2 separate regions of the Homo sapiens genome follow, and region 2 is linked to region 1. A link means that fine-mapping ties the variant in region 1 to the expression of a gene that starts in the linked region. Tissue or cell type: fibroblasts. Region 1 holds a variant in brackets; the other region holds the start of a gene. All regions are shown on one strand. Distances are between the middles of the regions.

Evidence for each region. PIP is the estimated chance that this variant, and not a neighbour inherited with it, causes the effect.
Region 2: it holds the start of GLI4, and the variant in region 1 is fine-mapped to the expression of GLI4 in fibroblasts (GTEx, PIP 0.96).

Annotation. Positions count from the first base shown.
Region 1 is chr8:143,226,551-143,234,721 of GRCh38, forward strand. No RefSeq gene overlaps it. Among named protein-coding and RNA genes, the nearest start is that of ZFP41, 16 kb to the right of the region's middle. The variant A/G (reference allele first, on the strand shown) is at 4,270.
Region 2 is chr8:143,263,242-143,271,412 of GRCh38, forward strand. It overlaps GLI4 (GLI family zinc finger 4), which reads left to right and starts at 4,204. Exons shown (of 4, transcript NM_138465.4): 1 at 4,204-4,243; 2 at 6,119-6,279. The coding sequence starts at 6,156. RefSeq lists silencers at 3,670-4,379, 4,540-4,659 and enhancers at 5,220-6,042, 6,669-6,858, 7,644-8,144.

The sequences.
Region 1 (8,171 bases):
ATGCAATCCCACACAACTTGTGAGGTTGCTGTTGCACTCCATTCTGCAAAATGCGGAGGCTGTGAGGAGACCTGTTGGAGCCAGGATTCAAGGAGCTTTCTCGGCTCCGGAGCACAGGGCTGCCTCTCCCAGGGTTTTCCAAATTCTGGGCTCTGCCTGCTTCCTCTGTCCTCCAGTGAGCATCCTGACTGCCCTGCCCTCTCCATCCTTCTCTGACCCCCAGGCTCCTTCTGTCCTGCACCCATCAGCTCACAGTTTTATGTTGCTGCCGCCTGGGGTCCTGCCCAGTGTCCCAGTTGGTGGGAAGCTCCTGAAGGGCAGGCCGGTGCAGGCACAGCTCTCTGAAGAAGGTTCTGAAGTTGTTGTTAAGACTGCAGTGGCCGGGCGTGGTGGCTCACACGTGTAATCCCAGCACTTTGAGAGGCCAAGGCAGGAGGACCACTTGAGCCTGGGAGTTCCAGACCAGCCTGGGCAACATAGTGAGACACCATTTCTACAAAATAAAAAAAAAAATTAGCCGAGCATAGTGGCGCAGGCCTGTAGTTCCAGCTACTCAGGAGGCTGAAGTGGGAGGATCGATTGAGCCCAGGAGGTTGAAGCTGCACTGAGTGAGGATTGCACCACTGCACTCCAGCCTGGGCAACAGACTGAGACCCTCTCAAAAAAATAAAATTAAATTAAATTAAAATTAAAAATAAATAAATAAAAGAAAGAGACAGAGACTGCAGTGAAAGAGAATCTGCAGAGAGGAAGGGGCTGTGTGTGACTTTGCATCCACAGGATTTTAATTTATGGAGGTGACTGTGCTGGCACAGAGAGGCCAGTGCCATGAGAGAAGTGCCGTCATGCCTGGGAGGATGTGAGGATGAGCGATATGACAGGAATGAGTGTGGGGTCAGCCCCAGGCCACCTAACAGCCAGGCCAGAGGTTGCCTGCTGGCACCTGGGCTCTGACCTTGTGTCTGAGCCCCACAAGACTCCAGGACCCTCTGCACCCCAGGCAAGACATGCCTACCCACTCGGTCTCCTTCAGAACCACGGACAGTGCCGGCGAGCACCACGCGCCACTGACCTGAGCTTCTAGTTAATTCCATATGGTGCCTCTGCCTCCTCCAGACTCAGCTGTCACCACGACCTGGCCAGCAGCAGGACCACCGGCACCCAGGTCTGACCTCAGGCTCCATCCCCTGCTGGACCCATGGGACCTGGCCCAGTGGCACCAGAATACCTGGGCCCCACCCCTGCCCTGGGCCCCACCCCTGCCCTGCGCTGCTGTTTCCTCAGCACTTGCTGTTTCCTCCCAGGCCACCTTCCCAGCAAACTCCCATTTATTTATCTATTTATGAAACAGGGTCTCACTCTGTCACCCCAGCTAGAGTGCAGTGGTGCAATCATAGCTCACTGCAGCCTCACCCTCCTGGGCTCAAGCGATCCTCCCACCTCAGCCTCCTGAGTAGCTGGGCCCACAGGCATGTGCCACCATGCCTGGCTAATTTATTTATTTTTGGTAGAGATGGGGTCTCACTATGTTTCCCAGGCTCATCAGCAACTCCCGTGCTCAAACGATCCTCCCACCTCAGCCTCCCAAGTAGCTGGGATTACAGGCGTGAGCCACCACACCCGGCCTCCTTTGTCGTTTAAATCCAAATATCGCCTTGTTCTGCAGGCCTGACCACCTGGGTCCTCGTGGGCTGGGCTCCTCTCTGTACTCCCGTTCCATCATAACCTGCCTCCCCTTCCACAAGGAGCACTCAGGGCGCCAGGGGCTGCGGTGGGTTCCCTGCCCCTCTGGAGCGTAGCAGCCTGTGCCCAGTGTTGGTGCCTGCGGGAGAGGGAGGCGGGGGGGAGAGGGAGGCGGGGGGGAGAACAGGTTCAGATCCTGCTGCTTCCCTTTCTGTCCTGGTGGCCAAGGCTACCTGCACAGGTAGATGAGGAGGGCACTTCCTTTCCCAGTGGGCCCTGGGTGGGATCATGGAGGGAGCCCTCGAAGGCATCTGGAGCCCGGGGCGGGTGCTCAGTCGACATGCACCCCTTCTGTGGTCGGACCCTGCTCCTGGCTTCCTCCCAAGCCCCCGTGCCTCCTGTTCGCTGTTGCTCTGAGTGCCGTCCAGGCACAGGCCCCAGTCCTTGGTGACCTTCCAGGCCACGCCTCTCAGCCCCGACACCTGCAGGGGCTTGGGCCCGTCCAGAGAGCACCCCTCCCTGGAAACCTCCGGGGCCTGGAGCCTGGGGCAACGCCTCTGTGTGGGCCCCGAGGTGAGAAAGGGACCTGTGTGGCCTGGAGTGAGATCCCACTGGGACCGGAGTGTGGACCTGCTGCCTGCCAGCTGTGCCGTCTCAGGCTGGCCATTTAGCCGCTCTGTGTTCGGGTCTCTCGTCCACGACACTGGGAAAAACCAAGCCCATCTCACGGGACTGGTGTGGAGATTTTCTGACCTTCGGCCGCCACACCCTGGCATGTGCTGGGCGACCCCTGCCCTGCCTCATTGCAGTCTGTTTCCCAAGCCGGGTTCTGGTTCCTTGCTTGTCCCCACCCCCCACAGTGTTTCGGACCCTCCTCCGGCATGGGGTCTGCCCGAGGCCCGGCTTCTCACACACACCCCTGCCACACCTACGCACCCTTAATAGGGAGGGACCAGCAAACCCACGGGGACCGAGCCCCACCCCCAGCTGGCTCACCACCCACCCAGAACCCAGCCCTGGGGCCACCATCTGGCCCCTGTGACCCTGCACCGGCCCCTGTGACCCTGAACCGCCCCTGACCCAGGAGCAAGTGCAGTGAGAACACCCTGTTTCCTCCTGGCTCAGGGCGGCCGTGACCTGCAGCTGGAGTGAGGGGCACTTGGGCCTGGCTCCAGGGATAGAGGAGGGGGACCTGCCCAGCATGCTGACCCTGCTCGAGTCTGTTAGATGGGTCTGGGAGGGCCTGCCTCCCTCTTCCACACAGACCCTGAGGGCTCCTCCTCTCCAGCATGGCAGCCTCCAGACCGAGTGCGTCCCGTGCCCACGCCCCGTCCCCCGGGTCGCCTGTCCAGACCGAGTGCGTCCCGTGCCCACGCCCCGTCCCCCGGGTCGCCTGTCCAGACCGAGTGCGTCCCGTGCCCACGCCCCGTCCCCCGGGTCGCCTGTCCAGACCGAGTGCGTCCCGTGCCCACGCCCCGTCCCCTGGGTCGCGTGTCCAGACCGAGTGCGTCCCGTGCCCACGCACCATTTCCCGGGTCACCTGCTCAGACCAAGTATGTCCCAAGCCCGCGCCCATTCCCCGGGGTCACCTGCTCCTTCTCCACTCACCCAGAGGAAGGTGACAGAATGTGGGGATCTGCTTTAATCTGATATCTTCCTGGGGATTTCCTGTCCCCCAGGACAGGAAGCGGGCATCCACTGCTGGGCCTCCGGCTCCTTGTTCTAGTCTGTGGGAACTCGCTGGAGAAGGAGGCAGTGTCCCCAAAGCAGGAAATTCCTAAGGAAGGAACCTCTGCCTTCGGTCCCAGGCAGACCCTAGGGACGCTTTCCTGAGACCACTGAGGTCTGCAGAAGCTAATGGTCACCGGGATGGGTCAGCTCTGCAGGAAGCAGGGCGAGGCCACCGCTCCTGCACCCAGGTCCCTGACAGGAGATGCCCGTATTGGGACCTTTCCAGAGGAGAGAGGCGTCCCCAGCTCCTGTCATGGAAGCAGGTCATGCACCTTCAGGCTGGCCTCAGACCAGGGCACAGCCAAGGCTTCCTGCCCTCTAGGGTCTGCAGGTGGGAGGGGAAGGGGGTTCAGCTAGTTCCATGCTGGATACCGCGGGGTGCAGGGGCTTCCAGACATCAGGAGGTGGGAGCGCTGCCTGACACTCAGGCTTCCAGCAGCAGAGACCTCACGGGGGTGAGCCCTTTCACTGCCGCTTTGGTGGTGCAGGAAGCCTGGACCCAGCTCCCGGCTGGGGCATCCCATGAACAAGAGGAGGGTAGGAACCCAGCAGAGGACAACCTCCTCGACATAAAAACTTCTCCACAAAAGACCCAGGGAAGAGGAAGGAAAGACAAACTACAGACTGGGAGAAAATGTTTGCAAACTGCATAGCGGACAATGGACTGGAATCTACGATCTATTCACAACGTATCTCAAAATTCAACAGCACAAAAACAACCCACTTACAACATGGACAAACGACGTAAAGAGCTATTTCCCTGACGAGGACACGCAGAAGGCAAACGTGCACAGGAACAGATGTTCGACACCACGCACCCTCAGCGTTCCGACACTAGAACCACGGTGAGGCTGC[A/G]GCGATGGCTCACTCATGTCATCCCAGGACTTTGGGAGGCCGAGGGGGGTGTATCACTTGAGCCCCAAAGTTCAAGATCAGACTGGGCAACATAGCAAACCCTGTTTCTAAACAAACAAAAAATTCACGGTGAGATCTCATTATACACCTATCAGAACGGCTAAATAAAAAATAAACTGTTGCTGGATGCGGTGGCTCAAGCCTGTAATACCAGCACTTTGGGAGGCCAAAGCAGGAGGATCACTTGAGGTCAGGAGTTTGAGACCAGTCTGGCCAACATGGTGAAACCCTGTCTCTACTAAAAATATAAAAATCAGCCAGGTGTGGTTGTGCGCTCCTGTAATCCCAGCTACTCAGAAAGCTAAGGCAGAAGAATTGCTTGAACCCAGAAGGTGGATTATGCAGTGAGCCGAGATCACACCATTGCACTCCAGCCTGAGTGACAGAGAGACGCTCCATCTGAAAAAATAAAAATAAATCAAATAAATAAATAAATAAACCATGACCACCCCACATGTTGATGGGGAGGCAGAGAAGCTGGGTCACCTACCTGCTGCTGCTGGGAGTGGACGATGGAGCAGCCGCTCTGGAAGACAGCTTGGCTGTTTCTTATCAAACTAGACACGCAACTCCCACGACCCCCTGATGCGCCCCAGAGAAATGAAAGTCATGTTCATACAAAAACCTGCTCATGAGTGTTCACAGCAGCTTTACTTGTTTTAGGCAAAACCTGGGAAGCAGCCCAGATGTCCTTCAATGGCAAAGGGTTCAGCTGGTTCCATGGGCACCAGGGGAGACAGCCCAGCCACAGGAAGGCGGTGCCGCTGAATGGCATAGCCGCCAGGGGGAACTACAGAGACTCTCCGGAGTGAAAGTGGCCTCTCAACAGGCGGCCTCCAGGACAACTTCCTCTGCACAGCTCCCTGCAGCCACAATTCTGGAAATGGAGAGAACCAATGAGTGGCCACAGGGGCTCCCAGATGCCCCTCCCCACAGCGGAGGGTGTAATATTGCACCAAGTTATGCAAAATGATAGCCTTGGGTTGGGCACGGTAGCGCACGCCTGTAATCCCAGCACTTTGGGAGGCCAAGGCCAGTGGATCACCTGAGGTCAGGAGTTCAAGACCAGCCTGGCCAATGTAGTGAAACCCTATCTCTACTAAAAATACAAAAAAAAAAAAAAAATTAGCCAGGCGTGGTGGCAGGCACCTGTAATCCCAGCTACTTGGGAGGCTGAGGCAGGAGAATAGCTTGAACCCAGGAGGCAAAGGCTGCAGTTAGCTGAGATCATGCCACTGCACTCCAGCCTAGGCAACAGAGTGAGACTCCATCTCAAAAAAAAAAAAAAAAGAAAGAAAGAAAAGGTTACCCTTGGAAGAAACCGAGCGAAGCATATAATGAATGTCTCTCTGTTATTTCTTACAACCATATGTGAATCGACAATGACCTCATTACAATTTTTAATTGAAAACTAAAGGCGGCTGGGCATGGTGGCTCATGCCTGTAATCCCAGCACTTTGGGAGGCCAAGACGGGCAGATCACGAGGTCAGGAGATCGAGACCATCCTGGCTAACACGCTGAAACCCCGTCTAGACTAAAAATACAAAAAAATTAGCCGGGCATGGTGGCAGGCTCCTGTAGTCCCAGCTACTTGGGAGGCTGAGGCAGGAGAATGGAATGAACCTGGGAGGCGGAGCTTGCAGTGAGCCGAGATCGCGCCACTGCACTCCAGCCTGGGTGACAGAGCGAGACTCCATCTCAAAAAACATAAAATAAAATAAAATATTTTTAAAAAACTAAAGGCAGACTATTTTTAATAAAAGCAGGTGTCCGAAGCGTCAGGGAGCCCCGCTGGAGGGAGAGCCTGTGGGCGTCCTGGGGAGAATTGGGTGCCAGGTGCTCACCGGACCCCTGGAGCCCAGTGCGGGGAAGCTGTGGCAGGGAGCATGGAAGGCTCTGCGCAGATCAGCCCTCCCTGGGCACTGAAGATCTTCCCTGGAGGGAGGGCCTGTCATGGAGTGGGAACATGCTGGGGGGCGCACAGGCCCCAGCCCTTCTGCCCCCTAGAGAGGGAGGCCCTTGGCCAGGCACGGTGGCTCACGACTGTTATCTCAGCACTTTGGAAGGCCAAGGTGGACAGATCACCTGAGGTCAGGAGATCAAGACCAGCCTGGCCAACATGGTGAAACCCGGTCTCTACTAAAAATACACAAATTAGCCAGGCGTGGTGGTGGGCACCTGTAATCCCAGCTACTTGGGAGGCTGAGGCAGGAGAATCACTTGAACCAAGAAGTGGACGTTGCAGTGAGCCAAGATCACGCCACTGCACTCCAGCCTGGGTGACAGAGGGAGACCCTGTCTCAAAAAAAAACAGAGAGAGAAGGAGGCCCTTGCTCACATGTCAGGATTGAGGCCCAGGAGACCCAGGGGTGGGCAGAATGTGAGGGACTGAGAGCTCAAGGCTGAGTCGGCTTGGAAGAAAAGTCAAGGTGATTGAGCTCCGTGTGAACAAAGCTGGTTGTGTGCTGTTTTGCTATTGTTGTTGTTTTGTTTTTTTTCTTTTTCTTTTTTTTTTTTTTTTCCAGAGACAGGGACTCACCTTCCCACCCAGGTGGGAGTGCAGTGGCGTGATCTCGGCTGACTGCCGCCTCGACCTCTCAGGCTCAAGCCATCCTCCCACCTCAGCCTCCCAAGTAGCCGGGACCACAGGCACGCACAACCACACCCAGCTAATTTTTTGGTGTTTTTTGTAGAGACAGTCTCGCTGTGTTGCCCAGAATGGTCTCACACTCCTGAGTGCAAGTGATCCTCCCGCCTTGGCCTCCTAAAGTGCTGGCATCACAGGCATGAGCCACAGTGCCCAGCCATGTTGTCGTAGTTTGGGTTTGGTTTGGTTTTATTGTGTGTTTTGGCACAGCCCTTGCTCAAACCCTGCAGAAAACAGAAGATAGGTATGTACTGACTGGTTTCAACTAGTGTGGGAAAACCTGGGTACCCTCCCCTCTGTTTCCCTGAAGGCGCCCAGGCCACCAGCTTCATGAGCACCCAGCGGATAGGGTGTGCCTGGTACCACCACAGGAAGGCCAGCTCTGGACACAGGGAGGACGCACGAAAGGCCGAGACAGTGCCCAGCCAGTGCGGATCCTGTACGCCGGCTGCTGGGTTCTCCTCCCTGTGGCCATCCACCTTCATGCTCTGCCCTCACACCCTGGGGCCATGAGGCCAGACAGACTGGGCTTCGATCTGCCATGTTCCTGGCATGCACTTTAGGTGGGCGCGCTGCTCCAGTTCTCCCTCTGTGCCATGACAGCAGCTACAACTGAGGGCCCTGGGTGCACATGAGTGTGCAGTGAAGGTCAGGCATCCGTGAGGTCCACCGTCACACACTCCCAAGGGACCCCCAGCCAGCGCTGCACAACCACCAGGGCCACAGCAGCTCTGTCTTAACCATGTGCTGAGTTGTCTCGTAAATCAGTCCCAAAGCCACACACAAACCCTAGTATCACACAGACCTCCCTCAGGTGCTGGGGGCCCTGGTCCAGTCACCCCCTGCCTATTGACCACACTCCTCCACAGTGATGCACCCCAGTGCTGAGACCTCTGGCGGACTCATATAACCCTCCCCCCAGCACTGTGGTTCGGGTCTATCTCTTCCTGGGCCCAGGTCTCTTCTACCCAGGATCCCGTCTCTCCCGGACTGTGATGTGGGCGGCCTCGGCACTATGAGGCCAGGTGTCTGCCTTCCCTACAGACACTGGACTCTCGTATCTTCCCCGCTGGCTCCCTGGACCCAGGGCAGTGCAGCTTGGTTGGCTCAAGATCACAGCTCACCCCCGCTGAGGATTCCAAGGAGCATAATAGCTATGACAAAAATAATCTTAGAACAGACCTCTTCACATCC
Region 2 (8,171 bases), 37 kb after region 1:
TGGGCGGGGGCACCACCGGAATCTGGTGTGCAGAGGCGGGGGTCCTGCCCAGATGCCAGAGGTGCTGCAGGTGAGAGATACAGATTTAGACCCTGTGACGACAAAGAAAAGGACGGGAAAGGTGGCTCTCAAGGCCCCAGGGAACCGCCCAGAGACGCCTGGGGTTCCAGAAGCTGGAAAGGCATGGAGCGGTGCGGGAACAAGCCTCTGCGGTGGCTGGAGATGTGGGGATGGAGACTGGTCATGCCTTCACACACTTAACCAGAACCCTCCCAGCTCTCCCTCCCCTGCAACCAAGCCAGCAAGGCGACACGGTGGCTGGCGCTGGCGAGAGGCAAGTGTGCTTGACTGCCTTTCTCCACTCTTGAGGACAACACCCAGAGTGGCCCCGTCTTTGCCCCACCAGCCCAGGCCTAAAGCTTCCTCATCATCCGCATCCCGGCCTGGGACTTAGGCGGACTTCTGCCAGCTGTGTCACGTGCAGGGGACTGCAGCCACTGACCCCCTCTCCCTTCTGTCCTGCTCTTCTCTACCCCACAGCCCCAGGCAGATCTTCAGTGCATGTCAGCTCTCCTCCCTCCCTCCCTGCAGACCCCTGTGCCCCGCAGTGCCCTGAGAATGACGTCTGAGCCCCCAGTGGAGGTGTCAAGGCTGTTCGGTCTGTCCCCATCCCGTTCTGTCCTCCCCTTGCTCACCACACTCCCCTGCCTGGTCTTCCAAACTCGAACCCCAGGCAACTCCTTCAGGCATCAGACCTCTGCCCCTGCGCCCCTCCTGCCTCTCTGTGATGGGCTGGCCCTTCCCTTCTGCTGCCTCCCCTCCCTCCTTCCTGCTCCAACCCCTATCTCTCTCTGATGCTGCCCCTTAGAGAAGCCTTCTTGGACCTTAAGCCTGGCCACTCCTCTAAGCCCCTCATCTCCAGGTGTGGTCTAGGAAGTGCTCTCAGCCTCTCTACTCCAGTGGCTCGGGGTCTCTGACCAGCCCTCCTGCCAGGGAAGCTTTGAAGGTTCCCACAGGGACCCCTAGAGACAAGGGCACTGCCCGTCCAGATGGCACCCTCACCCCAACCCCAGCAGCACTGGCTGGAGCAGGCCATGCCTGTGTGGGTATCTGAACAGGCACTGGATTCCCCGATCTCAACAAAAGAAGCCCATGGAGGCCTTTTCTAATCCACAGTCCAAGAGGACAAATCAAGACAACAGGCTGGGGGGGCTGGCTGTGGGCCGACTCCCACGTCTTAGGACCAGGGGCTCTGGGGCTGTTTGGGCTGGAACCCCTCCTCCCAGCATAACAAACACTAGCTCATTATTTACAGTGAATACCCAACAAAACCCTGCTCGAGGTGAGGAGCGGGGACCTGCTGCTCCAACAGACCAGACTGGCTGCTGGCTCCGAGCTCATTAAATCAGCAACCTTTGCACTCCCTCCAAAGCCCTGCCCGTCACCTTCACACCTCCCTGGTGGGGGAAGGGGATTCTTCCACTCTGATTACACCCGTTCCCATCTCCCTTCACTCCTGTGAGCTGGCCAGGCTGAGGATTTGTCCAAAGGGCCTGGGGAGTGAGACGCTCCACAGCTTCTCATGGGTCAGCCGACATGGACGGTAGCTTGGGTGACTCAGCTTCCCGTGATGCGCTGGATGCACAGGGAGCTGGTGACAACAGCCTGTGTGTGTGACAGAACAGCCTGTGCGTGTGACAGGACGTCAAGAACTACATACAAAGACACAGCTGCCCCCAAAAATGAGTCTGCACAGCCTGGTGCAATGCAGCTGCAGCCTGTCATCGAGTCAATTGCATTGTCGTCCGCCGCTCTCCTGATGTAGTTCTGTGTTTGTCCATTTTGCACTGCTATAAAGGAATACCTGAGACTGGGTAAGTTGGTGAGCGCCTGTAGTCCCAGCTACTCAGGACGGTGAGGCAGGAGAATAGCATGAATCCGGGAGGCGGAGCTTGCAGTGAGCCAAGATCGCGCCACTGCACTCCAGCCTGGGCCACAGAGCGAGACTCCGTCTCAAAAAAAAAAAAAAGAAAAGAAAAAAGAGGAGCTGGGCGCAGTGGCTCACGCCTGTAATCCCAGCACTTTGGGAAGCTGAGGCGGGTGGATCACCTGAGGTCAGGAGTTCAAGACCAGCCTGGCCAACATGGCAAAACCCCGTCTCTACTAAAAATACAAAATTATCCGGGCATGGTGGCGCATGCCTGTGATCCCAGCTACTTGGGAGGCTGAGGCAGGAGAATCACTTAAACCTGGGAGGCGGAGATTGCAGTGAGCCGAGATCGCACCAATTGCACTCCAGCCTGGGCAACAAGAGCGGCAACTCCATCTCAAAAGTAAATAAAGAACAAAAGGGGTTTGCTTGGCTCACAGTTCAGATCAGCGTTCAGAGGGTGCTGCTGTCCCTGGTCATACTGTACAAGAAGAGGCTTCTGGGGAGGGCTCAGGAAGCTTTTACTCACAGCAGAAGGCAAAGTGGGAGCCAGGGCATCCGTCACTTGGTAAGAGCCAGAGCAAGAGAGGGGCGGAGGCGCCAGGCTCTTTTTAACAGCCAGCTCTCACTCATCACCAAGGAGAGGGCACCAAGCTACTCATGACCCAAATAGCCTCCCACCAGGTCCCACCGCCACCATCAGGGGCCACATTTCCATGAGATGTGCAGGGGGCTCACTTCCAAACAGTATCAGATATAGTACTAGTTCCTTTTTTTTTTTTTTTTTTTTGAGACAGAGTCTCATTCTGTTGCCCAGGCTGGAGTGAAGTGGCGCGATCTCGGCGCAATGCAACCTCCGCCTCCCGGTTCAAGTGATTCTCCTGCCTCAGCCTCCCAAGTAGCTGGGATTACAGGTGCCCGCCACCGTGTCCGGGTAGCTTTTTTATATTTTTAGTAGAGATGGGGTTTCTCCCTGTTGGTCAGGCTGGTCTCAAACTCCCCACCTCTGGTGATCCACCCACTTCAGTGTCCCAAAGTGCTGGGATTACAGGCGTGAGCCACTGCGCCCGGCGCTACTTATAACTTTTTAAGAAACTACCAAGCCAATTTCTAGAATGGCAGCACCACTTTGCCTTACCACTGGCGATGTCCCAAGCTGCTCCGCGACCTCAGTGATGCTTGGCACTTGTTAGCAGTTTTTACCTGAGCCACCTGGCAAGTGTGCAGTGGCACCCACCGCGATGCTGGCCGGCCCTTCCCTGACAGCCATCCCTTCCCGAGCCTATTGCCATCCCTGTGCCCTCTTCGGTCAAACGTCTGTTGCGGCTCTTGCCAATTTTCTAACTGGAATGTTTGTTTTCTTGCGGTAGAGTTTAGAGATTTTTACATATTATCAGCCTGGGGGCTCCTCCACCCACACAGCCCTGAGCGTCCACCCTGGCAGCTGTTGCCCGTCTGCAGGCCCCCCCGCCCTCTGCTCCGCGTGCCCCTCCAGCTCAGGGGTCCCCTCGCCTCGGCTCTCTGCACCCCTGCTCAAAACGGTCAAAGAACCCTCCCCGGCCGTTTATTTTTCCCAGAAAGTGACAATTTTCTCTTTTCAGGTCGTAAGCACAGAACTGAGGGAGAAACTGTGGCTGAACAAGAGGAAAATGAGGAAGGAGTCCATGAAGGGGCTTTGGGGAACCTGTAACATCCTCCTCAGGCTCCCGGGGACGCCCCTGGAAAGCAGGCAGAATCGAGGGCGCTGGGGCCCCCGCGAGGGGAGCGGGAGGTCGCGCGTCTCGCAGCGGTTCCCGGCCGCCGGTGACCATCGCTGCGGACACATCCCGAGGAGGGAACCCAAGAGGGCGGCGGGGGGGACTCGCGAGCTGAACGTGGAAGCAACTCCAGCCGAGGACCCCCGGAGGCCTGGAGTGCACGGAGGGGCCGCGGGCAGCGTGGGGACGGCGCCGTCATCTCCCGAAGCCCGGCCCCGCGCTGGCTCCCCGGGCGGTGCAGGGCCGGCGTCGGGAAGGAGGCTCCGAGGCGCCGGCTTCTGCGCCCCACGCAGCGCCGCTCCCCGCGCCCGGGCGCTTTGCAGGCGCGGGCGGGATCCGGGCCAGCGTGTACGCGAAAGCCACGCGCGGGCGCAGCCCACGAGGGGAGGGGCGGGGAAAGGCCTCCTCTTCGCTCCCGGCCCCGCCCCCACACGGCCACCGAGGCGTGCGGTCCTCCCGGGGCCCAGAGCGTCCCGGAAGTGCGCGCCGGCCGGGCGGAGTGGGGCGGGGCCGGACACTTCCGTCCGGCGCGCGGCGTCCTCCTCCCGCTCGGAAGGTGAGTGGGCGCGGGCGGCGGCGGCGGCTCCGGGTGCCTGGGACCAGCCCAGTCCGAGCTCGTGCGCCGTACTCCGCGGTGCAGCCCTGCCCAGCCGGGCCGTGCGGCCCTTGCAGCCGCCGCTCGCCGTGACCTTGGCCTTGGGCCAAGCCCGGGGAGCGGGGTGGGCTCCTGGGGGTCGCGGAGCAGCAGCGGACCGCCCCGCCCAGCGGCCCTGGCGATAGCGGGTGTCCGTTCGCAGGGCGCCTTTCCCAGGCACCCAGTGACGGCAGCTGTCGTCATCGCCACTCTGCAGATGGGAAACTGAGGCCCGGAGGTCCCGCCGCTCCGGAGCGAGGAGCCGCCGGACCCCAGCGCCGCACCGCCGGGCGGACGCGCTCTGTGCCGAGCTCCCGGCGATTGGGTCCGCTCCCACGGGGCTGGGAACAGAGGGGCAGAGGATGCTTCCCCCGAGCCGCTGGCAGGAGTGCCCTTCCCCCTTCAGTCTGGAGCTCAGAGTTTGTGCGTCCCTGGGGGTGAAGGGGCGTCCACGCTGTGATGGTCGCCTCTGCTCAGTCCTGGGGGCCAAGCCAGGGTCGGGGTGATCGAGCAGGCCCTTTTACCAGGTGTCCCCAGTAAGTTAACTAAGTAACTTGAGATGTGACTTCAGGGTGGAGGACCTGCACCCAGTGGCCACCTACCTGGTGACCTGACCCTTCCCATCATTAGGGGATGGAGGCTGGCCCAGAAGCCGGGCACTGGGGTGGCGGCCGTGTGGGAGCTGCCTCTCCCACTTCCTCGAAGCAGGCACTGTCTGCTGTTCTTAGATCTGAGTATCCGTTAACTTTTGTCCTCTTTTCCCGTTCCTTTCTTCACTCCCTGCCCCAGATTAGGAGTTCCTACTCTATCACAGTATGAAAGAAAAGTCACTTTTCACATTGGACTCAAGCCGTTTTTGCAAAGTAAACTAAGAAGTGTCTTGGAGCCCTGAGTGAGTCTCCCAGTGCTGCTGCAGGGCTGGACTAGGGGATTCCAGCCTGCAGTCTCTGAGGGCTCTGTAGGGTCTGAGGAAGAGAGTTGCCCTCTGGAAACGTCTCTTCTCTGCTGTTCGGGAAAAACCTTATTAAGATTTCCTCCAAAACACTCATGCGCAGCAGGCATGGTTCGGTTTTCAGCCCTCCCACAGGGCCAGCAGCTGAGGTTTTTCTGGAAGACTCCCTATGCCTTTCTCTGGGGGAGGGGTGATGCCACGGGCTGGAAGGAGATGCCAGAGCCTCTGCTGGGACAGGAGCTTCGCTTCAGCCCCCACAGGCGTCTGCTGTGCCGCCCAGGCGGTGGCTGCTTCCTAAGCGCGCCTTCCAAGGCGTTACTCCTTTGCTGCTGCTGCTGCTGCTGCTGTTGTTTGAGTCTTGCTGTGTCTCCCAGGCTGGAGTGCAGGGGCGCCATCTCGGCTCACTGCAACCTCCACCTCCTGATTTCAAGCTGTTCTCCTGCCTCAGCTTCCCAAGTAGCTGGGATTACAGGTGCCCGCCACTGCGCCCAGCTAATTTTTATATTTTTAGTAGAGATGGGGTTTCACCATATTAGACAGGCTGGTCTCAAACTCCTGACCTCATGATCTACCCACCTCGGCCTCACAAAGTGCTGGGATTACAGGCATGAGCCACCGTCCCCAGCCACTCAAAGCGTTATTCCTTACTGAATAAATGTGCCAGGTCCCCCAACTGCCTCACCCCAGGCCTATGTGTCTCTGTGGGTTCATCCTCCATCCTTGCTCCTCCTGGAGTGGATAAACCTCCATCTCCCCTTGGAGAGCTGGCATGTTGCCTCCTCCTGCACCATCCCCCCGACATTCCTCCCAATCCCCTCATCTGCCATGGTTTTCATTTTCCCCAGGTCCCAGGTGTGACACCTTCAGCAGGTCTCAGGGAAGATGGCAGCCCTAGGGGACATTCAGGAGTCCCCTTCTGTCCCGTCCCCTGTCAGTCTCTCATCACCGGGGACACCTGGAACCCAGCACCACGAGCCTCAGCTTCACCTCCATGGGCATCAACATGGTACTCACCCAGCCCGCTGTGCGCCCTCCACCCTGCATCCCCTGCCCTCACGTCCCCTGCCCTGTCTCCTCCTGACCTGCCACGCTGGCTGACTTGAGAGGCGCCTCCAGACACCTGTATGCAGCTCCTTCAGCAGCTGGGGTTCCCACACCCTCAGGCCAGGGGCTCGGCGCGGGTTGGGTTGGGGCAGCGGTGGTTGAGGCTGGGGCCAAGCCTGAGCTCTCGCTCCCTAGGGACAGCTCCCCGCATTGTTTCTTTCCTGAGTTGAGGTATAGGAGGGAAAGTGGCCTCAAAATCTGGATCCAGCGTGACCAGGAGCAAGGCATCGCCCCTCTGAGTGTGTGTTGTCATTCAGGAAGTGGAGCAGCCAGAGTCCTTGCCAAGCTGGTTTGGGTGTGATCCCCCGGGACTCGCAGGGACAGAGCGCCAGCCTTGCTCCACCCCTGATGTTGTGGCCTCATGGTCACATGGCAGGCTCTGGGAGTTGAGGTGTGGGGGAGTCCCAGCCCCATAGTGCCCCTGGCTCTACTCCCTCTCAGAGGTCAGGGATCCTGAGGCTACATCTCTGCTGGGTGTTCCACAGGAGGCCTGGCCTCGGCCCTCGTGGCCCAACCCAGCACATGAGCTGCTGACAGCAGGGGCAAGGCCCCATATAGGTCAAGCCTGGAGAGCCCGTGCCTGGCCCAGGAATGGGGGCAACCTGGCACAGGGTTCTCCCTCTTGGGGAGTCAGAGTCCTGGTGGCTGAAGGGACCACTGAGGCTTGTGGAGAGCAGCTGCGCTGCATGGGGCCCTCAGGTGGGCACTCAGATGGGGACAGAGAGTCCGGGGGGCTCCCCCAAGGAGCCAGGACCAGGGTGAGTTAGAGGAGCAGGGAGCCAGGCAGCTTGGCATCCACTCCCCTGCAGCCCTGCCGTCTCCGCTGCGGTGTCCCGAGCAACTCCCCAGGGACTGCGAGGAGGCTGGGAAGGGGCGCCCGTGGGCTGCCTGGGCTGCCTGTCCTGGTGGACCTGGCCAGGGGCTACCTGGAAGGATCCCAAGCCCCTGCAGCACACACTGTGGCTGGGCCTCCAGCCCATGCCCCTGAGGGCCGTGCTCCTCACCCCTTAGTCAGAATCTCAGGGCCCACCCTTGCCCTCTCATGTCATCTGTACAATGGCTGAGAGGAGTTCTCCTGTCCCGTTACCAGTGGGGACACAGAAGCCCAGAGACAAGGCCAGGAGGTCAGCAGACTCAGGGCATGCCCTGGCACCCCCCCAGGCCTGATGAGGTGTGACTTCTCTAGGGGGACAGTTTCTGAGGGAGGGCACAGCCCAGCAGATCATCTTGGCACAGCACAGGACACACACTGAGGTGGCTGCAGGCCAGTTTCTGCAGGATAAGAAACTGACGCCCAGGTGGAGGGTGGGCTGGGGAGCATGGAGGGGCCTGGGGCCAGGCCCCCTGAGCCTGCAGGGTTGCGCTACCCCCAGCCCTGTCTCCACCAGCTGTGGGCAGCCAGGCCCAGAAAGCCAGGCATGAGTCCCCAGCCCCACAGGCCTGGAAGCCTCCTGGGCACTGGAGCCATGTCCGAGTGCCCTGAAACCCCCAGGGGTTTTGCCCCGTGGGAGGGAGTGGGGGCTGCACCAGCAGCTTCTGCCGTCTCCTTGCTGTGCTAGAAACAACATCCAGGGAGGACAGATGAGCTGGGCCCTGAGAACAGCAAGTGTGGCTGCTTTCCCCCAGCAAGAGACTGTGGCAGGAGGAGATTGTGGCTGAGGCACAGCGGGGCCTGGGAAGGCTGTCAGGTAGCCAGAGCCAGATAAGGGGGCGGCCTTCATCCCCTCTTCATGCTGATAGGCCTGGTGTAGAGAGAACGGGGCCAGGCCGCAGCAATGGGCAGCTACTGTCCCA